Homo sapiens: one gene and its partners. The protein of the gene in region 1 interacts with the protein of each later gene in a pairwise test. Each region holds a gene or a part of one and is shown in the gene's direction. Other genes may lie near its edges. The genes, in order: TLE1, H4C12, H4C3 and HEXB.

Region 1 (7,041 bases):
CCTTGGCCTCCCAGAGTGCTGGGATTACAGGCGTGAGCCACCGCGCCCAGCCTCAATTGTTTAATTTTATGGAAATTTACTTGTCATTTCTTCAGTATCACCTGGCAATTTTTTTGTTGTTTTTGGACCCAGAGTATGGAGCCTGATTCTGAGTCATAGAACTTGGCTACTGGACTTTGTTCGTTGAGCATTCTTCAAAGCCTAGAATTCTTGTAGGACATGAATAGACTTAAACTCCCATAGTTCTGTGGCAGTCTTCAAGGGCAACAAAATGCTATTTGATTATGACTCCAAGTATCCCATAATAAGTGGCATAGGTTCCTGTTCAACTAACTATAATGTGCATGTTGAAATATCATGTGGACTCGATATATTGCTAAGGACACCAAATAATCCTGTTGGATAAAAAATGAGATTGAGTGGTTTGGTGATGTGAGGGCTTTGAGCTATATTGTTTTTATATGTGTATTTATTCCCCAGGACAGTCTCCATGGTTCCCATTATACGTGCTTATTCATTCAAATTAAGAGTAACATTAAGGATTTGGGCCAAAAAGCTATTTACTATTAGTTACTGGAACCAATTTGCCAGCAGATAACAGATTGAGATTATGTCCTGTGATTGAGTGGAGGGGAAGTTTAAAAGTCTTCATGTGTCTGATATTTTGCTTTTATGGAGGGAAGATAATAGCATGCATTTTATTTTCAAGCAAATGTATGTGGGTTTTAAGTGCAGGGTGCTAGAGACCTGGCATAATCGGTTTTCAGTTTTGTGCTTGCTAAGTTACTTTACAAAATTTGAGTTTGTATTAAAATGAAAATTTAAGCTCTGTGTTAGTACTCATGGTGTTTACATTATATTTAAAGCTGCCAATGACAAGCTCCAGAAAGGGCCCAGACTTTCTCGAGGGTAATGGGAAGGAGGAAGCAGTGCATACTTCACTTATTGTTTATGGTTTGAACTTCTAGCTCTCTTAGTGATTTCAAGTTAAGAAAGTGGAAGTAGTGGTCTTCAAAGTAGAATGTGCATAATTTTTTTTTTTTTTAAGACGTAGTCTTGCTCTTGTCGCCTAGGCTGGAGTGCAGTGGCGCGATCTCATTGTTCTCATTGTCCAACTCCCATTTATGAGTGAGAACATGCAGGGTTTGGTTTTCTGTTCCTGTGTTAGTTTGCTGGGAATGATGGTTTCCAGTTTCATCCATGTCCCTGCAAGGGACATGAACTCATCCTTTTTTTTATGGCTGCATAGTATTCCATGGTGTATATGTGCCACATTTTCTTTATCCATTCTGTCATTGATGGGCATTTGGGTTGGTTCCAAGTCTTTGCTATCCAGCAATTGATTTCTGTCTTTGAAATCAACTTGTGGCCCAGAGGGGCCGTAGGAGCACCAGTCATCTTGCTCTTAGCTCAGGCAGTGGGAAGGAAGAAGAGAAGAGGGCAAGTATGCTCTCTCCCTATTTATTTTTTTAGAGCAGTTATAGGTTCTTGGCAAAATAGAGTGGAAAGTTACAGAGAGTTCCCATATCCCCCATCCCTCTCCCCTCTTTCAAGTTCAGAGCTTCCTCAAAATGCCATCCAACAGCTTCTTCTTACACCTCATTGGTCAGAACATAGGCAGGCTGGGCTAAAGGAGACCGGGGAAGAGTAGTTTTTTAGCTGCACACTTTGCTGTTTTATATAATGGCGTTCCTGACCAAGGTAGGCAAGGAAGATTGTTGAGTAGGAAACCTAAAATCTCTGTTTACAGCCATATAAGATAATCTCTTATTTTCTCTTCCTTAAGCAAGAGAAAGTTGAAGTCCATACCATAAACTGGTATTTTTAGAAAGCTGTTTTTTTGGAGGTTGTTTTTGCTGTTGAAATATATCTACTCTGTTTAATTATTATTAGTTCTTAAGGGCTTCATCTTTAGCAGGGAAAACAATCATTTAAAATTATACTAAGAAATCATACAATTACACAAGATACATGGAAGGAGGTATTTTATGTTCATTTGGAAGTACATTAAGTGTTTTATAATGAGATTTGAGGGAATGCTTTACAGAATGGGTAAGAACAATTTAAAACCCTTAAAAAATTTTACATACAGTTCAATATATATGTCATTTGGTACACGCTAGATTTCTGCTATTAATTATTTTAAATTTGCACCAGCAGTAAATGCTTCAATTTGTATTGATTTCAAAGGAAACTATACAAGAGAATCTTTCCTTTTTTTCATCTTTTTCATAGTCGTAGCACATTGCCGAGATAGGGATTGCTTCCTCTGTAAATGTGTTTTCTGTCTTCTCTCCAATCGTTTTTCCAAAAGTGCATACTCCTTCCACGTTACTGCAGACGGTCAGATGCAGCCTGTCCCTTTTCCCCCCGACGCCCTCATCGGACCCGGAATCCCCCGGCATGCTCGCCAGATCAACACCCTCAACCACGGGGAGGTGGTGTGCGCTGTGACCATCAGCAACCCCACGAGACACGTGTACACAGGCGGGAAGGGCTGCGTCAAGGTCTGGGACATCAGCCACCCTGGCAATAAGAGCCCTGTCTCCCAGCTCGACTGTCTGGTGAGTGAACAGGAACTGGTGCACAAGGGCAATTTCTCCCTGGAGATTCAATAAGGAAATAGCTGTGTGGGCCTGGGTTTTATTCCCATTATGAGGAAATAGAAGCCCCTTCTGTTTCCTGTGTTGGTTATTTAACCCCCTCGGCTCCCCATTTAAATGCGAAGGTTTCATTTGTTGCTGTTGTACTGGCTAAATCCCAGAGTTGATGGATTTCTTTTTAAAAAATATTTTACAGTGGTTTACAGAGGCTCTCCTCATGTATGGATGTGTATTACAAAAGAGAGTTTCCCATTTAATGGACAAAAGCACAACTGGGCCTGGACTCTGATCCCTGCCATCCACTCGTTTTTTAATTGACCTACAGCCTTTAGATAAATATAGAATAGTAAATATTTGATAACATGGCATAAAAACCATTCTGAACAGGGTCTGTGTTTTTAAGGGAGACCTGAGAGAGCTGGTTAGGTTTTATGGCCTTAACTTCAGGAAAGGGTTAAAGGCTGTCACTGCAAAGACCCGGGGCAGCCATCAACGAAAGAGAGCAGTGAGAATGCTTTCCCAGAGTACCTAAGCCACGTCCGCTCAGAGCCTGAGAATACCATTTAGCATTTTTCAGGGACATAAAACATGTTGGGACATGTTCGGATCTCTTTTTTCTTTTTTCTTTGAGACGGAGTCTTGCTCTGTCGCCCAGGCTGGAGTGCAGTGGCCGGATCTCGGCTCACTGCAGGCTCCGCCTCCGGGGTTTACGCCGTTCTCCTGCCTCAGCCTCCCAAGTAGCTGGGACTACGGGCGCCCACCACCACGCCCGGCTAATTTTTTGTATTTTTAGTAGAGACGGGGTTTCACCATGTTAGCCAGAATGGTCTCGATCTCCTGACCTTGTGATCCGCCCGCCTTGGCCTTCCAAAGTGCTGGGATTATAGGCGTGAGCCACCGCGCCCGGCCATGTTCCGATTTCTAAACCATAACCCCAGGATTTACAGAGCACATACCACTGGCCTTAAGCAGACTCCGAGCTGCCCTGCCCTGCCCTGCCCTGGTGTGGTGTCTGCCTGCACTCTGCTGTTGCAGATGGTGCCACGTACCCACTGCCTGCCTGGAAAATTGTAAGGATTCCAGAGAAGGTGTTTCCAAAAAGCAGAGTGGCGGTGTTTTGGAAACACAGACTTTTTTTAGAGTAGTTATTAGTGCATTTTTTAAAAAAACCAAATAACTTCAAAATGTCTTCATTCATGAAATTCTTATTTAAATATGGCCCAATATTCTATAGCAGTAGGAGTATCCTTTGTTGAAGTCATGTGCTTAAAGTTTCTTTAATCTTTGAAAGATAATCCATCGTTAAAAGCATGTAAGCAAACTTTAGCCATATCTGCATCTTTCAGGAGTTGATCATATGAGGGCCCCCCACCCACAGCCCCTTCATATGTGTCGGTTTTGATGGAAAGATGCCTGCTTTTATCAGGTTCTTTGGCCTTTGCATTGAGGGGCTTAAGTGTAACAGCAGCCACATGACAACTTGAGAAAGCAGCTCTGGTAAATTCTTAGCAAGAATCCTTCTGACTAATGAGGTAATGTGCTCAGCATAACGAAGACCGAAACATAGAGGATGGGCCTGCAGTTTCCAAGTGGTAAATAATGCAGGGTGATGAGGTAGATTTATAAACTAGCTTGGAAAAGTGGTTTCTTCTCAGGGAACTATGTGTACACCTGTACCTCATACCTAGATAGTTTCAGCTCTGTGATGCAGGACACCAGAAGCAGTTACCTAAGCTCCTGTGAATTTGTTTTGTTTACTATTTTGAAGGAGACAGTTGTACTTGGACCCCAATCTTGACTAGAGAACTCTTGCTCTGTTAGAGTGTCCATGAAACACCACTCTTAACTCAAAAAACCAAGACAGCCATTAGAGAACATGGTGCTATGATTGCTCGGTAATTCATTATAGCAATGAATTATGTTTATTCTACAGAACAGAGACAATTATATCCGTTCCTGTAAATTGCTACCCGATGGCTGCACTCTCATAGTGGGAGGGGAAGCCAGTACTTTGTCCATTTGGGACCTGGCGGCTCCAACCCCGCGCATCAAGGCGGAGCTGACGTCCTCGGCCCCCGCCTGCTACGCCCTGGCCATCAGCCCCGATTCCAAGGTCTGCTTCTCATGCTGCAGCGACGGCAACATCGCTGTGTGGGATCTGCACAACCAGACACTAGTGAGGTGAGCAAAGATGGTCGTCTAAGGAGGGGTTCGCTTCTTTAGCAGCTGGGCCTATCACCTCTGCTTCTCTCTGGCTGCCTGCAGCCCACACAATAAGAGCCTCTTGAATGCCAGGCATGGGGCTAGGTGATGAGGGAACAAAGACAACTGTGTTGCTGCCTTTGGGGGGCTTACAGTCTTATTACTATGCCTGGTGTCACCCGAGACTTTCTATCTCCTTAATGTGCCAATTCTTCAGCCCACATACAGACTCCAAACTTGTTCTAAAAATATTTCTGGCTTTTGCCAAGGGGTGGCCTAATGTGGATTACACGGCAGCACAAAAGGCCCTTGATACTAGATGTTTTGGGCTTTGGCTAGAACTTGGTGCAGACAAGAGCCAACTGATAAAAGATAACAGAAAATCAACAAAGGGACATGAGAAGAGGAGATTCTGTGAATTTTGCCTACAAAATGATTTTAAAGTATCTCAATAATGAAATAGACCTGCCCAGGGGTGGTTCCACCCAGGAGCCCGCAGGGCTCTGCCTGGCCTTCTGGCATCAGCCCTGTCACCTTAGCAGCAGCTGCAGTTCTGGTACCCATGTGTCTCTCCTCAGCTCCCCCGCCAAATGCTCCCTTCAGAAGTCAGTGCTCACACCAGAGCTGTTCTCAAAAAGTCTTTTTAAAGTAAGCATGAATGAAACATGAAAGGTAAAATGAGTACATGTTTTACTCTTGTTTCATCTTTGCTGGGAAGCCGTCCCTGCGGATGGTGCAGTTTGGGGTCTGTGGCTTGTTTGGTAAGTCCCCTCTCATGCTGCACAGAGAAGGGACGGGCTCCAGAAGTCATCATGACAGCTCACTCTCTTCAAACCTCCGCTGTAGAAATCCATGAAGTGTCATTGAGCCGGGCCCGGTCCCTGCGTGTGGGTGACAGTGCGGCAGTTACTTTCCTCTTCTGTTTGCTGGGTAGTGTAGGTGAGCAAAATGGAATGATGGAGCCAGGGCCGAACGCCCTCTCCACCTTTTATCCTAGCAAAAGTTACTTGTTTTTTTCTTTTTTTAAAACTCCATAAGTAGCACTTTCAAAATATCAATTCTAAGCACTTTTCAAATATTCCTCCACTTAGTTCTCATAACGTCTGTCCTGCTATTTGCCCCATTTTATAGAGGAAGTGCCTGAGGCTCAGAGAGGGTAAGTTACTGGCTTCAGGTCACACAGTCAGATGTGGTGGAGCCAAGTTGAGGCCCAGGCATTCTGCTCTCGTCTGTACTCTGAACCCTTGCTCCGTGCCGGCTCCTGGGGAGTAAATACCTGTTGGATAGAATGGGGTAGCGTCTTACAAATCTTTCTCTGGACCACTCACAGGTGGCTAGTGGCTGCTGCATGTAATAGGGCCATGTAAAGCCTATTGAATGTCTTTGTATCCACTGTAACCCAGCACGTTCTGAACAGTCATAGGATGTGCCTGAGAGTAATGCTGGAGTATAGTATATGGACGGAGAGAGGGCAGAGGGATGGGGGAGCAGCTGCCAGGTACTGTATGTCAGCAGAGGAAGGTGTTTTCAGTCAAGGAGGAACAGCGTTTCATGAGTTAGAAAGGTCAAAAGAAGTCAGAGGGTCACTGGATTTCCAGAGCTGTTTGAAGGGAAGGAAAGCAACACTTTCACCAAGTGAAGCAGGGACTGCTCCAGGCCTGGGTGTTCTGTGGGGATGTCTGGGAAGCAAGCGGAAACATTGGAGGTCCAGCTGCACGGCCGCAGGAGAGAGGACTCAACCTGGATCCTAAAGTGCAGAAGTTGGGGATGGCTTGCAGAGAGAAGATTTTAAAAGTGATGGTTCACGTCTTGGCTTAGAATTTAGGGCAGTAGTGGTGCTTTTTCCTTCCCTTGCACTCTTTAAAATCCAAGCTCAGGTTAAAAGTTTGGAGCTCTACAGGAATGATAAGGTGTGGGGATCCTGGAGGAAGAAGCAGCATGGTAACTTTCTTCTCAGTGTTGAAATTCCCACGCAGTTCTTTACTGGATCCCGCCTGCTTCTGAGGGTGGGTCTAGACTTTGCTCGCCTTTTCTGGCTGCCTCCCCCACCACCTTCCTCTCAGCATGCAGAACTGAGTCCACCAGTCACCGTCCCTGCTGGGGCTTACACTGACCTCCCCTCAGCAGCTCTGCTAGTTGCCTTGCACAGCATCTGTGCTCAGCAGATCCCTGTTGGCTGATCGTTTCTGATGGCGATTTTTGAATGAAGCACAAGGTTCTTTAAAGAACAACCTTG
Region 2 (5,497 bases), on another chromosome or scaffold:
TCTCCAGTCCATTGAAATACATTAATTTTTGAGTCTCTTCACACATTTTTATTTCCTAGATTTAAGTCTTGATTGCAATCACATACAACTAGTATTTCTTGGAATAAAACAGCAATCACAAAAATCATAAATATCACATTGTTTAAAAAAATTTATTATTTGATGTTGAGGACTCCATCCTGATTTCAATGAATTAATTCATTTGTTCCCTTTTAAAATGTCATCTGTGTTATTTATGTGTATAAATTTTCAATAATTGTTTCTCAATATAGAGTAAATGATACAGCTCCATAGAAGGCCTGTAAGATTTTTGAAATTAAAATAAGTTTTTAAATAAAATATGCTGTTATGATCATTGAAGTTGATAATAAAATTATTCCATTGATTCTGTTTCTCCCAAGAACCACCATTTAATCATGAAAGCTAGCTAAGTAATATTTTTCAGAGTTCGTGAGTTCCAGAAGTAAAATTCTTTAAGCTAAACAGCTTGTAAAGTAACTTTTGCTTTATAATTATTATAATTTTGGGTGTTATTTATGCAAACTCAAATCAATGTACTCATAATCAAAACATTGACATGCAAACTTATGTATTAAGCAAAATAAAATATACAAGTGTGATATATCATTGTTTATAATTCCACATACACATGTAAAGGAAAATGGAGGAGCTGTTAAATGAGTAGCTTCACAGTAAGTAAACTAGAGGAGGCAACCTAAAGATCAGAGAGATCCAAGGGGCAAGGAGCAATTAGGAACATTTATAGTGCCTTATCACTTCATGGTATTATATCATCTGTGAAATATTGAATTAAATGAATGTCCTTACTGATTTGATGCCCTCTGAAGGTTTGTTGAAAAATCAGACATGAGGTAGATTAATAGAAAAAAAGGCAGACAAATTTACAATGTGCATGGGGAGAATCAGTGATTGCCCACCCCAGAACGTGGTTCAGAAGTTTATATACCATCCTTGAAAAACAGTTTGAGGGAGGGAGAAGAGGAATTCATTTGAGGGGATTACTAGGAAGAATGAATGGATCAGGGAAAAGAAATTAAACTTGTACCTTATCTTGTGAAATGAGCTGTTCGGGTGTGATTACATTCGTCTTACAGGGACTCATTTTTGGTGAGTCCAGATAACAGGAAGACAAAGGTTGGGGAGTGGGAGAAGGTCAAAGAGACTTTGAGGCTTCTGCAGTTCAGCTTGTCACCATGCCATAGTTTGGGGTATTGGTTTCTGAGCCCCGACATTGACAATATGTACTAAAAATAAATATTTGTTATTTAAATTAACTACTTAATGTGTTATACATAATTAGATAAATTGATGTATTAACATATTTAAAGTATAATATAAACAAAATATTTGTAAATTAGTTGTAAAGAAAAAAATTACGTATATTAAATAGAGGTTGGCTTTCTGCTTAATATTTTACATACATTATCTCCATTGTTTTATTTTTTTAATTTTTTTTATTTTTTAGATGAAGGTCTTGTGATGTTGCCCAGGCTGATCTCTGACTCCTGAGCTTGCACAATCCTCCCACTCCTGAACACATGCAATCCCCCCACCTCAGCCTCCAGAGTAGCTGGGACTACAGGCAGGCTACTGAGACTGGCCTCCATTAATTCTTACAGTACCTCAAAGAGGTAAATACTGTAGGGGCTAAGGGAAGTTTCATAGAAAATCAACTGACAAAAGACAGAATAATGGGAGAAATGGCACAGAAATTTAATAATGTGCACGAGGGAGAATTACAAAGTGATTACCCCAGTCCCTAAAGGAGTACAGAAGCTTATGTAACTTTTTTCATAGGGGAAGGAGGAGATGGGAAAGGTAGACAATTCCTTTGAGGGGCAATAAAGGCTTGTTATGGAAAATAAATGGGCCACAGAAAGAAATTAGCTTGTAAATGATTGTCTTCATAATTTATTTATTTATTTTGAGATGGGGTCTTAATCCGTCTCCCAGGCTGTCACCCAGGCTGGAGTGCAGTGGCACAGTCTCCACTCACTGCAACCTCCACCTCTGGGATTCAAGTGATCCTCCTACCTCAGGCTCCCTAGTAGCTGCGACCACAGGCATGCACCACTACAACTGGCTAATTTTTTTTTTTTTCAGACAGAGTTTCACTCTTGTTGCCCAGGTTGGAGTGCAATGGTGCAATCTCGGCTCACTGCAACCTCCGCCTCCCAGGTTCAAGTGATTCTCCTGCCTCAGCCTCCCAAGTAGCTGGGATTACAGGCATGTGACACCACCTGGCTAATTTTTTGTATATTTTGTAGAGACAGGGATTCGCCATGTTGGCCAGGCTGGTCTCGAACTCCTGAGCTCAAGGGATCCACCTGCCTCGACCTCCCACAGTGCTGGGATTAGTGGGAGGAGCCACAGCACCTAGTATGTCTTGGTAATTTAAATGAGACCGAGAGGCAGACATTATCTTGAAAAATCCATATTCAGTATTCTTTTCTGCAATAATGAAATAACAGGGAGGGGATAGAAGGCAATTGTTACTTCTGGTAAGAAATTTTCTTGGTCCGATTAGGAAATGTCAGAGTCCCTTCGCATGTATGGGAAAGAAGACGAAGTTAGAGGGGCTTTGATTCTGAAGCTTATTTCTGAGGCCTTTCAATGTTCAAAAGCGCTCAGCATGCCCAAGAACCACATTTTGGGGAATCATTCTGCACCCCAACAGTACCGTCACTATCCTATTCTAACTTTGTAGATGAGCAAAGATTTAAAAAGAATAAACAAGTCACCTCGTGTCTGATCGGTAACAAGTCAGCTCGAGTCTGAAAGGTAAACATTTAATCTAAAACCAAAGTTTTCTATTTCCAGAGTTTCAACTCTTAACTACTTTCTAAACAAAGAATTGAATACTAAGAGATTATATTAGAATAGTTATAGGAGTTTTATAATTTTCATTGATGTTAAAATAATTTCAGAGTGGCCGAGCGCAGTGGCTCAAGCCTGTAATCCCAGCACATTGGGAGGCCGAGGCATATGGATCACGAGGTCGGGAGTTGGAGACTAGCCTGGCCAACATGGTGAAACCCCGTCTCTACTAAAGATACAAAAAAATTAGCCGGGCGTGGTGGTGAGTGCCTGTAATCCCAGCTACTCAGGGGAGGCTGAGGTGGGAGAATCGCTTGAACCCGGGAGGTGGAGGTTGCAGTGAGCCAAGATTGGGCCATTGCACTCCAGCCTGAGCGAAAGGGCGAGACTCCGTCTCCACAAAAAAAAAAAAAAAAAAAAAAATTCAGAGTATAACCCTGTATTTATTAATAAGAAAGAAAATCAAATATACGGAATCAAAGTTGCTCCATAATGGTTGATAACAAATCTTTAGTTGGGTCATATAAAAGTGTCTTTTTAAAAACCTACAAGCGTCCAAGCGAAGCGGCTCACGCCTGTAATCCCAGCACTTTGGGAGGCTGAGGCGGGCGGATCACGATGTCAAGAGATCAAGAGCATCCTGTCCAACATGGTGAAACTTGTTCTTTACTAAAAATACAAAAAATTAGCTGGGCGTGGTGGCGCATGCCTGTAGTCCGCGCTAATCCGGAGGTTGAGGCATGAGAATCGCTTGAACCCGGGAGGTGGAGGTTGCAGTGAGCCGAGATTGCACCACTGCCCTCCGGCCTGACGACAGAGCGAGACTCCTTCCAAAAAAAAAAAAAAACCCCACACACAAAACCTACAAACACCAATTTTCTAGTTATAAGAGCTTGTTTTAAGGATTTTAATTCTATTCCAATTAAGTCCTAAAGCTAATGCAATTATCAAAATCTCGAAGAGATTTTATTCAAACTTCACAAAAGGTCTCTAAAGTTGTCCAGAAACCTTGGTGAAACAGATTAGGAAATTTGGAAAGGAAATAATGCGGAGACCCGTAGTACCAAATCATGAGACCTCTAATACAATTTTAAATATTAATGTAATAAAATTTAAATTTTGGTGTAATAAAATCATAAATTTCAATATTGGTCCCAAGTATAGAGAAAAAGTACATTTATGTTGAATGTGGAAAACATTATTTTTAAAATACAGCCGATTAAAAAATTGCTGGGGAACTGATTATAACTATTGATAATTCCTAAGAAACATAGACACCAAAACATCACTTTTATCTCTTTAATAGAAATTGGTTAAATTATAATCAATATAAGGAGGTTACAAAACTCCATATACAACACTGTATACATTTTCTTGGAAAAATATGTGCAACTGCTCTGCAAAATACATGATTAACTAGCCTGTGTGATGGGATAACATTGTAGTTTCTTAATTTCTTGTCCTTTCTTGTATTTCCCACAGTATTGATGTATATCTTCTGCGTTCAAAAGCAATTTTTTAAAGCCTCATAACGTGGTAACAAAATACTATGCACGTTACAAAATTCAGAACACGGAAACAAGAAGCTCGCTTTTTTTTTCCCCCTATTTCGGTTTGGCCCTTTAGATTTCCCCTCCCCCACCGGGGCGGGACTTCCCGCCGACTTCTTTCAGGTTCTCAGTTCGGTCCGCCAACTGTCGTATAAAGGCGCTGCCTCAGGCCAGAGTCCTCACAAAGCGTTGGGTGAGACTCCTCTTGCTCGTCATGTCTGGCCGCGGCAAAGGCGGGAAGGGTCTTGGCAAAGGCGGCGCTAAGCGCCACCGTAAAGTACTGCGCGACAATATCCAGGGCATCACCAAGCCGGCCATCCGGCGCCTTGCTCGCCGCGGCGGCGTGAAGCGCATCTCCGGCCTCATCTACGAGGAGACTCGCGGGGTGCTGAAGGTGTTCCTGGAGAACGTGATCCGGGACGCCGTGACCTATACAGAGCACGCCAAGCGCAAGACGGTCACCGCCATGGATGTGGTCTACGCGCTCAAGCGCCAGGGCCGCACCCTCTACGGTTTCGGTGGTTGAGCGTCCCTTTCTATCAACAAAAGGCCCTTTTTAGGGCCCCCACTTTCTCAGCTGAGGAGCCGTGATGCTTGTTTGCCCAGTTTCTCTTTACCATTTGTTCGCGCCTGCTGAGTTTGTGCTGCTATCGGAGCATGCGTCTCTAGTCGCTGTAAGTAGGCATCAGTCACTAATCGCTCTCCAGTAAATAAAATACCCAACACAACTTGTTTCAGGTGCTCCAGAGCTTACTGACATGGGCCGTCGCGCAGACTGTAGTGCAGTGTCATCATGGCTCACTGTAGCCTCCCGATTAGCCGGAACCTCGCGCCCACCACCACGCAAGGCTAATTATTTTTCCAAAGACCGGGTCTCCGTGTGTTTCCCAGGCTAGTTTCGATATCCTGGCCTCAATCCCCTCGCCTATGCCTAATGTTGGTATTACAGTAGTGAGCCACCACGCCTGGCCACGATACTGTTGAGGTTTTAGGGTTAGTTACATTTAAGGGGCAATTTTCGCAGTGTAGTGGGGAGGAAAGTCAAGCAGTTATAGGTTTCTGGCGCTGTGAATCCAACTGCTGAACATAGCAAGAACTTATTATGCAAC
Region 3 (5,425 bases), on another chromosome or scaffold:
AAGGATTATCAGGAGTGAGCCACCGTGCCCGGCCAAATTTCTAACTTTTGAATTGACATATTCATTTATTCTCTTTATCATTCAGGGAGAAATTTGGGGATGGATAGCCTTGAAGCATCATCCACCAAGTTATTTTATACACCAGATTTAGATACAAAGTATTTTTTTATTATTTAAAAAAATCAAATTCTAGCTTTTACTCTGAAGATTCTAAAAAGAATTTTGGAGTCTTTAATTCATACTTCAGGGGCAGGGGAATAAGTACCAATATTCGTATAACTTTCAGTGCAAGTCACGTTAGCTAACTGTAGTCTATTGAGTTAAATATCCTTGATTTATTCCTTAAAACTGAGTCACTATGACGGCACTTTTTTGTTTTTTTTTTTCGAGACGGAGCTCGCCCTGTCTCCCAGGCTGGAGTGCGGTGGTGCGATCTCGGCTCACTGCAATCTCCGCCTCCCAGGTTCAAGCGATTCTCCTGCCCCAGCCTCCTGAGTAGCTGGGACTACAGGCACACACCACCACGCCCAGCTAATGTTTGTATTTTTAGTAGAGACAGGGTTTCATCATTTTGGTCAGGCTGGTCTTGAACTCCTGACCTCGTGATCAGCCTGCCTCGACCTCCCAAAGTGCTGGGATTACAGTCATGAGCCACTGCACCCGGCTGAATGGCACTTTCATAAAACAGTAAATAACCAACTTCACTACTGCCCCCAAGAGTTTTACTATGTATATGAGGGCATCTGTTTTAAGTATGGGTATAATGTTACGGGTTTTTCTTTGTGTAAGTTTGGGTTCACAATTTCATCATTAAAACAAATGTAAAATACTTTGTGCTTTCTGTGTGCTATTAAGAAAGTATTCAAGGGAATTTTGAAAATCAAATTTAATTACTCTCATGTTTGTAAAATTTTTGAAACAAATGTTTAAGAGAGGATAATGTTAGAAATTATCTTTCCAGCCAGACCTGGTGGCTCACGCCAGTAATCCTAGCATTTTGGGAGGACAAGGTGGGCAGATCACTTAAGCCCAGGAATTCAAGACCAGCCTGGACAACACAGGGAAAGCCCATCTCTACAAAATATACAAAATTAGTGGCCGAGCGTGGTGGCTCACGCCTGTAATCCCAGCACTTTGGGAGGCCGAGGCGGGCAGATCACCTGAGGTCAGGAGTTCCAGACCAGCCTCAACATGGAGAAACCCCGTCTCTACTAAAAATACAAAATTAGCTGGGCGTGGTGATGCATGCCTGTAATCCCAGCTACTCGGGAGGCTGAGGCAGGAGAATTGCTTGAACCTGGGAGGTAGAGGTTGCGGTGAGCCGAGATCCCGCCATTGCACTCCAGCCTGGGCAACAAGAGCGAAACTCCATCTCAAAAAACAAAACAAACAAATAAACAAAATTAGTCAGGTGTGGTTGTGCACACCTGTAGTCCCAGCTACTTGGGAGGCTGAGGTGGGAGGATCACTTGAGCCCGGGGAAGTGTAGGCTACCATGAGCCATCATGGTGCCACTGTACTCCAGTCTAGGAAAAAAATAAACATTAAAAATTTTAAAATCTTAAAAAAAGAAAAGAAATTTTCTGTCCAGATATCTTTATTTTTAACAAATCGAAGTGTATTAATAGTGTTTATGGGAGCGTGCCCACACAAGGACAGCAAGCCTAGGAAGTGCAAGTCAAGAAAACTTTTTGTGAAATAATTTAAACTGAAAAGAAAAAGCAGAGATTTTTTTCTAGAAAAGTAAGGAGTGGAGGTAAAAAAAAAACACAGCAGAGACACAGGTATGCTACGGAACCAAAGGTGTGCCAATGGTACTGACAGTTTAATTCAGAAAAAAATGAATCAGAAAATGGATATTTTTAAATAAGTTAGGTTGCTGAAAAAGAGAAATGCAGTGAAGCCTTAGATGGGAGTGAGATAAATCAGCCATTGGCTAGAGGAGTTTCTTGCCCAAGACCAGTGGTGATGTCCCCAAATGCCTGGAAACAACTGTTGTGACATTATAAAGCCCCCATAGTCTAAGTTGGGTGAGACTATACTTATGCATTTTCTCACCTGTAATATAGCTTAAAAGTATTTCTACTCTGGGATTTCTTTACATTTTACTAAAGCGCAATTATATACTTAAAACTGATAGTGTATGCTGGGCTGCTAGTCATTCTCAACCCTGGCCAATTATCAGAATTGTTTGTTGAATATATAGGTGCCATATATAGGTGCATACACACACACACACACACACATACACACACACACACACACACACACACCATATTTCATTCCTCATATCGAATATTCTGAGAGAGTTAGTTTGTGGAGGGTAGTTCTGGACAATTTATATTTTCATAACACCTCTGGTTATTTTTTTTTAAGTAGAGATGAAGACTTGCTATGTTGCCCAAAATGGTCTTGAACTCCTGAGCTCAAGCGATTCTCCCAACTCAGCCTCCTGAAGTGCTGGGATTACAGCCGTGAGCCACTGCATTAACCTCTGATTAATATCATAGATTAACCTCTGATTAATATCATAGATTTATTTGTTTGAATGCTTCATGTATCCTCTCAACCACAACTTGTTTGCAGAGTTTTAATCTGAAGGGCTTAGGTCTCTTGTTCAATGAATGAGTTTGATCTGATGGGTGAGAGGAAGGTGAAATGGAAAGCGAACGAGAAGCCATACAGATTAGGCGAGTGAGCCTAATCTCTCCCTAACCATAAGATTGAGTATGCCTGAATTCTTCGCAGAGTGGAAGAATCCATTTTAAATATATATATCTACATGTACAGATCCTTTAAATATTTGTTCTGACATTCATTGTTTTTGAGTCACTGTCATTGAGAAAAGTTTAGAAAGGAGATATTAGGAGCAGGAAATAGAAAGTAAATAAAATATCAAAATAAAAATGGGGTTTTATAAATGATATAATAGGCAAAATAAAGGAAAGGCATCCTAGACCTCTGGTTAAAATGAAGATGGCACTTGGCGAGATGTGTTCCAGGGTAGTTCACATGATGTATGTTTTCAGAGAATTGTCATATTGCATATGCTGCTATATTTTTTATTTTCATGAATTAAAAGGCATGTTGAGATTTCAGAGTTTTACTTATGATCTCAGACTCTGCATTTTTTCTCTGTAATGTTTGACATTTCTTCCTAGCTAAGTCTCTAGTTATAAGGTCTGTGTTGTGGCATGTGGACAGTGAGTGGAAGAACCTAAGAACTCAATTTGGGGCAGAAGAATGTAATCAATTATTTCAGAAGTGATACAAACAATATGACATGTAGAGCATTCTGGCCTTTCCTGGGTCTTTTTTCTCCATTCCTGGATTTCTTCTCTTCATGTGAGCAAGTCTGAGGTTACTATATAATGTCTCTCACAGGCCACAGCCCCATTCTAAATATTCCCAATAGAAATTCATTTATTAACCAGAGAGTGGTGGGTGGGGTTGTTTTTGTTTTTTAAACAAAAGTGGATCTTATGGGCATTCTGGAAAGCTCCCGCAGGAAGCTAAGAATAAAATTTTGAATTGAGAAGTCCCTTTCTTCAAACCACATTCAGACCCAATTCTGCTATTCTATTTATTTTTCAAGGGGATTAGCCTTATTTTAACACCAATAATCTTATCACAAAAACCTCCCAGAGGAAGACCCTGTAGATTTTGTAATGACCTTAATCAAGTATTAGCCCTACACTTCAATTAATCCCCAACTGTACAAAACGAATGTTCTTTTCTCTAAAGCTGTAGCAAGTTGAAAGGGGATTAAAAACGGAGGGAAGGGAAGAGTGTTTGGAATTTCAGGCACAGCAAACAGGCACAGCAGACCAGGAAGAGCGTCCCGGGAAAACATATTATCCAGACTTAAGTTTATATTCCCTGTCTCTCTCAGACTTTTGCAGAAAAATGAGTCATTCAACAAATATTTGAATCGAGATAGGGAAAGTGACGAGGAAGAAGTTTGCACTTATGAGGTTTTAATTTGCAATTATTTGGCTACCTTTTTGCCTTCCCAAAACATAGGGTCTTTAGGAGTGAAACTTCATAGCCAAACTTATACCTTGTCCAGCACAGAGAAGGCCATCAAAATGCCTGGTTTAAATAAAAATATTAAAATGATTGGGAGGGTAAATCCCTTGACCTATAAATCTGACCTCCTTTAAACATTATTTGTATGTTCCCCAATAAACTATTCCGTAATTTATTAGTTAGCAAGTGGAAATAAAAAGAAATGTGGAATGGGGCTATGCTTAGCGTCATTAAGCTGACAGGAATACAGCGCATTCAACTTGCAAACACCCTTCCACTCCCACAAAGAGCAAGCTGTCACTGGCCAATCAAAACAATGAACCATAATGAAACAGTTTTTCTTGCTCCACCCACTTGGTGACCAAATTTGAAAAAAAAAAAAAACCGCGCCAACTCATGTTGTTTTCAATCAGGTCCGCCAAGTTTGTATTTAAGGAACTGTTTCAGTTCATACCTTCCACTGCGATAGGAATCATGTCTGGTCGCGGCAAAGGCGGAAAAGGCTTGGGGAAGGGTGGTGCTAAGCGCCATCGTAAGGTGCTCCGGGATAACATCCAGGGCATTACAAAACCGGCTATTCGCCGTTTGGCTCGGCGCGGTGGCGTCAAGCGCATTTCCGGTCTTATCTATGAGGAGACTCGAGGTGTGCTTAAGGTTTTCTTAGAGAACGTTATTCGAGACGCCGTCACCTATACGGAGCACGCCAAGCGCAAAACTGTCACAGCCATGGATGTAGTATATGCCCTAAAACGTCAGGGGCGCACTCTGTATGGCTTCGGCGGCTGAATCTAAGAATACGCGGTCTCCTGAGAACTTCAAAAAACAAAAACAAAAAAACCCAAAGGCCCTTTTCAGGGCCGCTCACAAAGTCGTTTAAAGAGCTGAAATGCGTTGCGAGAATGAGTTTGGATGACAGAAATAACCGTGACATCCTGCATAAGAATGAATTGTGTTTGCCATGACCGGCCACACTGTGACAAAATTTCAAAGCATAAAGTAGGCATAGAGAGGTAAGCGCTAATAAAGTGATTGGCTCCACAAAAAGCATTTTGCTGGGCGCAGTGGCTCACGACTGTAATCCCAGCACTTTGGGAGGCCAAAGCTAGTGTATCACTTGAGATCAAGAATCCGAGACCAGCCTGGCCAAAATGGTGAAACCCCCTCTACCAAAAAAAATACAAAACTTAGCCGGGCGTGGTGGTCTGCACCTGTAGGCCCAGCTAGCCCGGAAGCAGAGATTGCAGTGAGCCGAGATCGCGCCACTCCCCTCCAGCCTGGGAGACAGAGAGAGACTCCTCAAAAAAAAAAAAAAAAAAAAAAAAAAAAATTATGTATTTTAGAGCATTCTAAGAATGGTACTTTGGACTTAACCGAAGGGCTGGAGGCGCGTGTTGAA
Region 4 (5,597 bases), on another chromosome or scaffold:
GGAGATTCAAAAAAAGACTACTGTGAAATGAGAACACCTTTAGTGAAAGAGGGCAATCAATGATTAAATAGGAAAGATTTTTCAAATAAAAATTCTCTCTGCAAATAGCTTTAGATGGAGGAGAAAGGTGGTAAGGTAAAGAAAGCCATTTTTAAAGGAAATCAGCTTCTTGAAAAAATTGTTTGCAATGGATAATTAAGATAACTTGTAATTAAGTTTTTAGGCTTCTTTTTACTACCTACAAACTTTAATAGTTTTAAGTCTGCACAACTGATGTTAGGCATGTATACTGCTCTAAATAATAAACTGAGCATATCAAACTTCTAATGAAATTTTAATCACTTTTTGCTTCAGGGAATCAAATCCAAAAATTCAAGATTTCATGAGGCAAAAAGGCTTTGGCACAGATTTTAAGAAACTAGAATCTTTCTACATTCAAAAGTAAGTTGTTTGAAAGCCTATTTCTGTATTAATGCTTTTTGTAAAAGTTTATTTAGTAATGTGCTTTATTTTTTACATTTTCTCTACATCCTTTGCCTAAGTGTAGATGTGAAAAATCACTAAAGGAGGCAATACCCACTGCTTGCTTTAAATCAGTAACATGGTGACTCCAAGTATTTTCCAATAGCTGTTGAAATATAGGAAGGCAGTCATCTGTTCTAAAAACTCAGATTGGGCTGGGCATGGTGGCTCACACCTGTAATCCCGGCACTTTGGGAGGCCGAGGCAGGTGGATCACCGGAGGCCAGGAGTTCGAGACCAGCCTGGCCAACATGGTGAAATCCCATCTCTACTAAAAATGAAAAAATTAGCCAGGCATGGTGGCAGGTGCCTGTAGTCCCAGCTACTCGGGCGGCTGAGGGAGAATCTCCTGGGAGATGGAGGTTACAGTGAGCTAAGATCGCACCACTGCACTCCAGCCTGGGCAACAGAGTGAGACTGTCTCAATCAATCAATCAATCAATCCATCAATAAATATAAAACTCAGCTTGAAGCCCTGGCTACCCTGTGAAGTCTTCACTACCATCCAGCCCCTGGAATTCATTCCATTTTGTCAATTCCAGGAACATATATTTTACTATATACCTGTGCTACCCAATACAGTAGCCATAGCCACAGGTGTCTGTCCATATGTAAATTAATTAAAATTAATGAAAGTTAAAAATTCAGCTACTCAGTTGCATTAGCCACATGTCAAGTGTTCAGTAGCCAGCTGAGGCTAGTGACTGCCATACTGAAAAATGCATATATATATATATATATACACATTTCCATCCCAGGAAGTTCTACTAGACCGTGCTGCTCTAGAGGGATTGGCAAACTTTTTCTGTAAAGGGTCAGAGAGTAAAGATTTTAGGCTTCATGGGCCACATACAATTGCCCATGGACCACATACAATTTTTTTTTAACTTAAAAAAAACCTCAAATTTTAAAACTTAAAAAAAAATGCTTTACAAATATAAAAACCATTCTTAGCCCATGAGACATACAAAAACAGCCTGCAAGCTGTAGTTGCCAACCCTTATGCTGTACCATTTATTTGGCAAGCCCAGATTCCAGCCTTTGCCTGTTCAGCTTTTTGTGTGATGCATTTAAGTGTTATTTATCTGCAGAGCACCTGGCATTATGTAAATATCTGTAAATATTTGTGGATTGTCAGTAACTGTTACATGTAATTTATGTGATATGACAGGCTAGATCGTGGTCCCTACCATTTTAAGACAGCCATAAAATTGTAAGAGATTGCTGTTTGTACAATTTCCTGAGTTGCCTACCAACTCAATTTGAGGCCACTTCTTCCTATCTTAGGGGCATGTTTAACTCATTCATTCAGCAAATGATTATTAAACCCCCATACTATGTTAGGTTCTGTATCAAGTGCTAAAAAGGAGGAACTACTTGTGACACTTCCCAACTTGAGCTGCTTCTGCTATAAAGCTGAACTATACTAAAAGGCACCTCTCAAAATGCAAGAAATCCTTGGTAGAAAATGTACATGTTTTAAATATATTGTTAAGCTTATGATCTAAAATAACTATAATTTTTTTGTAATACTAGGGTTTTGGATATTATTGCAACCATAAACAAGGGATCCATTGTCTGGCAGGAGGTTTTTGATGATAAAGCAAAGGTGAGCATTGTGAAGACTGCATCTGATCAATATAAGAGACTTAATTATTTTTCTTGGGGCAACTGGGAATTTGCAAGTCTAACTACTAGTATTACCTTTCTAGTGTAGTTAGTGACCACTTTGGACCTCATAGTTCCAAGCTAGGTTTGGTAGAAATAAGACTAAAATGCAAGTCTCAGCTTTAGTTAACTGAACCTATGTGGTATCCATATATAAGCAAAAGTTAAATATTCAAACCTAAGGTTGATGAAACTTTTAAGTCCCTAAAATGAGTATCACATGGCACTAACTCTGAAGAAAAGAGGAAAAAGAAAATGCAGATTTTTTTTAAGGATCTTAGAAAATTATGTTCCTAGTAATAATGCCTTAAACTTTCAATTTCATCTACTGTTCTAGGCCTAATAATATGTATTGCAATTTGTAACGTTAATAGCTTGCGCCGGGCACAATAGTTGAAGTATGGAAAGACAGCGCATATCCTGAGGAACTCAGTAGAGTCACAGCATCTGGCTTCCCTGTAATCCTTTCTGCTCCTTGGTACTTAGATTTGATTAGCTATGGACAAGATTGGAGGAAATACTATAAAGTGGAACCTCTTGATTTTGGCGGTAAGTGAAGCAGTTGGTCCAAGTGTTGTGGGTTACTGTGAAGCTGATGGTAAGTGAAGCAACCATTGTTACCTTTGTTTTATGAGTTTTCTTCCCTAACCTCCCACCCCAGAAGTCTTTACCTAGATATTACCTACCAACTATCTTTTATGTTTGATCCTTGATTTTATGTGTTTTTTTAAGTTCAGTATCATTTTAAACTCTCAAGAAACCATACAGTTGCCTAAATTCAAGAACTTCAAAAGTATTATAGATCCCCTTAGATTTTATCTCCATTTTCAGTGATGGCTCCTCACTCTCTACATTCTAAAGGTATTTGATTGCATTAACCTTACATGCCCTCTTCTGAACTGCTTCTCCAATGTAAGACACCTAAGCAAAGCTATAGTTTTAGTTCAGTGGATTTCAGGCTGTGTTGTCTTAGGATTCTGAGGAGTAGAATCCTTGGTGGATGGGACAGGAGGGAACATCTGAAGGGTGGAGCTTCAGGCTCTCAGATCCCCTTCATAAAAAACATTCTAGTTTGTCCAATTTTGTACATTAGCCTTTAGTGAAAAATCACTGAAAAAGGATTTTGCTGTTTAAAAAAGTTTCAAAACCATAGGTCTATTAAGAATTGATAATTTTATATACAATGCATTTTATGAGGACCAAAAAGCGATAATTACTGATTTTTAAAAAGCATTAAGTGGCTGGGCACGGTGGCTGACGCCTGTAATCCCAGCACTTTGGGAGGCCGAGGCAGGTGGATCATGAGGTCAGGAGTTCAAGACCAGCCTGCCTAAGATGGTGAAATTCTGTCTCTACTAAAAATACAAAAATTAGCCGGACGTGGTGATGGGTACCTGTAATCCCAGCTATTCGGGAGGCTGAGGCAGAGAATTGCTTGAACCCAGGAGGTGGAGGTTGCAGTGAGCCAAGATCGCGCCACTGCACTCCAGCCTGGGTGACCAAGCAAGACTCCATCTCAAAAAAAAAAAAAAACACACACATTAAGTATTCAATTTCTGTTTTAAATGCCAAGAGGTAGAAATTAAAGGTAGGCATGGTGGTCACAGTCCACTAAAAAACTAGTATTCCAACTTCTATTCCCTGGCACACTACTAAATAGGCAACCAGGGATTTAAAAAATGGTTTCTGGTGTCCAGGTAAGTTTGCATAAAACCAAAATAAAACTGTTTAATACTGGCCCACTACATTAATCTATGGTGCTAACACGTGCTGTGAACCGTGGGTCAGGGCTGGGGATAAAGTTTGCAACCATTTTTTTGGGGGGTGGGGGAAGAGGAGGGGCCATCTTTTTTGTGCCACAACCATTAGCATCTCCCAAGGTCCTGCTAACCACGGGCAAGAAATGTTGCCCTAGGATAAAGATGGAGGAAACAAATCTTGATGAAATATTGCCTCTGTGTATAAGCTTTGAACTTCTGAACTTAATTCAATGATTTTAATTTAGGTACTCAGAAACAGAAACAACTTTTCATTGGTGGAGAAGCTTGTCTATGGGGAGAATATGTGGATGCAACTAACCTCACTCCAAGATTATGGTATGGGATTTACCTGATAACATTTAAGAATTAAGGTGCCTTAGCTTTCCTTCTCTGTCTAAACACAAAAGTGCTAAACATAAATTTAAACTGCTTGCGGGGGGATGTGTGATTTAAATTTTAGGCCTCGGGCAAGTGCTGTTGGTGAGAGACTCTGGAGTTCCAAAGATGTCAGAGATATGGATGACGCCTATGACAGACTGACAAGGCACCGCTGCAGGATGGTCGAGTAAGAAATCTATTAAGTCCAGTGTGATTTTTAACCTTCTTATTCAGTGTTAGTTTCTTTTGCTATAAATAGAAATGTATGTTACCTAACAAATAGTAATTAGAAGAAACCAGGAATTATTTTTTTGTAAGTAATAATACCTGTAAAGATATATTCAGACTTGTGACTGTTTTATAGATACAAAAAATGTTGGTGTAACTTAGAACTCCATCTTGAGTTGCTTTAATTTTCTTCCCTTATTTTCAGTAATGCTGTGATTTAGTGATTCTAATTTAAGTTTCTAAGATGACATGAATATCAATCTAAAATATCTTTATGAATGATATCAATCTAAATCAATCTAAAATATCTTTATTCATGTTATCTACAGACGTGGAATAGCTGCACAACCTCTTTATGCTGGATATTGTAACCATGAGAACATGTAAAAAATGGAGGGGAAAAAGGCCACAGCAATCTGTACTACAATCAACTTTATTTTGAAATCATGTAAAATAAGATATTAGACTGTTTTTTGAATAAAATATTTTTATTGATTGAACCTTTGACCCTCTATCTTATTACATTTAGAGGCCTGGCATCTTTCTTGTGAGACAAGCTTAAGGACACAAAAGAAACACAACTTTGTGATACCACTCTTCTGAAGGCTACTTATAGTAATAACTTCATAGATGAACAGCATGATTCAGGTACAGTGGCTTTAAACATCAAAGCACATTTCTCATTATATAAATTAAAACGGGTGGCTCCAGTGCCACTATCAAAGCTTAAGTTATATCTTTTATCTAGTTCTCTGAATGTACTGAAACAGTACTTTATTCGTCCAATAAATAAAGCAATAAAAATTGTTCTTACTGAAAATGAAGTAGCTAGGTGCTCCTGAATTTCTCTCCAAAAACTAAAACATTTAGGTCAAACCACTTCTCCGGTTGAGCAGTGTATTTTGATCTTGAGGATTCATGGCTTGATAAGTAGATAGTTCTAAGGCAAAAGTAGCTGAGCCTGATGTTAGCGTTCGAAGCACAGTTGAATAACCCTAATCAAAATAATTTAAGTCATTTATATTATCAAATTTAAGCCTC

Evidence for each region.
Region 2: the proteins of TLE1 (region 1) and H4C12 interact in binary tests that used the Homo sapiens proteins (3 or more experiments, as listed by UniProt).
Region 3: the proteins of TLE1 (region 1) and H4C3 interact in binary tests that used the Homo sapiens proteins (3 or more experiments, as listed by UniProt).
Region 4: the proteins of TLE1 (region 1) and HEXB interact in binary tests that used the Homo sapiens proteins (3 or more experiments, as listed by UniProt).

The regions. Positions count from the first base shown.
Region 1 is NC_000009.12:81,588,548-81,595,588, reverse strand, and holds part of TLE1 (transducin-like enhancer protein 1), read left to right. Parts: intron 1-2,314; coding exon 2,315-2,564; intron 2,565-4,536; coding exon 4,537-4,784; intron 4,785-5,478; exon of another isoform or gene 5,479-6,081; intron 6,082-7,041. UniProt on the Homo sapiens protein: Transcriptional corepressor that binds to a number of transcription factors. Inhibits NF-kappa-B-regulated gene expression. Inhibits the transcriptional activation mediated by FOXA2, and by CTNNB1 and TCF family members in Wnt signaling.
Region 2 is NC_000006.12:27,830,633-27,836,129, reverse strand, and holds H4C12 (histone H4), read left to right. Parts: upstream 1-4,569; 5' UTR 4,570-4,602; coding exon 4,603-4,914; 3' UTR 4,915-4,956; downstream 4,957-5,497. UniProt on the Homo sapiens protein: Core component of nucleosome. Nucleosomes wrap and compact DNA into chromatin, limiting DNA accessibility to the cellular machineries which require DNA as a template.
Region 3 is NC_000006.12:26,099,445-26,104,869, forward strand, and holds H4C3 (histone H4), read left to right. Parts: upstream 1-4,488; 5' UTR 4,489-4,503; coding exon 4,504-4,815; 3' UTR 4,816-4,893; downstream 4,894-5,425. UniProt on the Homo sapiens protein: Core component of nucleosome. Nucleosomes wrap and compact DNA into chromatin, limiting DNA accessibility to the cellular machineries which require DNA as a template.
Region 4 is NC_000005.10:74,716,233-74,721,829, forward strand, and holds the end of HEXB (beta-hexosaminidase subunit beta isoform 1 preproprotein), read left to right. Parts: intron 1-354; coding exon 355-441; intron 442-2,058; coding exon 2,059-2,131; intron 2,132-2,564; coding exon 2,565-2,739; intron 2,740-4,195; coding exon 4,196-4,286; intron 4,287-4,410; coding exon 4,411-4,515; intron 4,516-4,885; coding exon 4,886-4,943; 3' UTR 4,944-5,056; downstream 5,057-5,597. Other genes in the region: GFM2 (ribosome-releasing factor 2, mitochondrial), read right to left, coding at 5,423-5,551. UniProt on the Homo sapiens protein: Hydrolyzes the non-reducing end N-acetyl-D-hexosamine and/or sulfated N-acetyl-D-hexosamine of glycoconjugates, such as the oligosaccharide moieties from proteins and neutral glycolipids, or from certain mucopolysaccharides.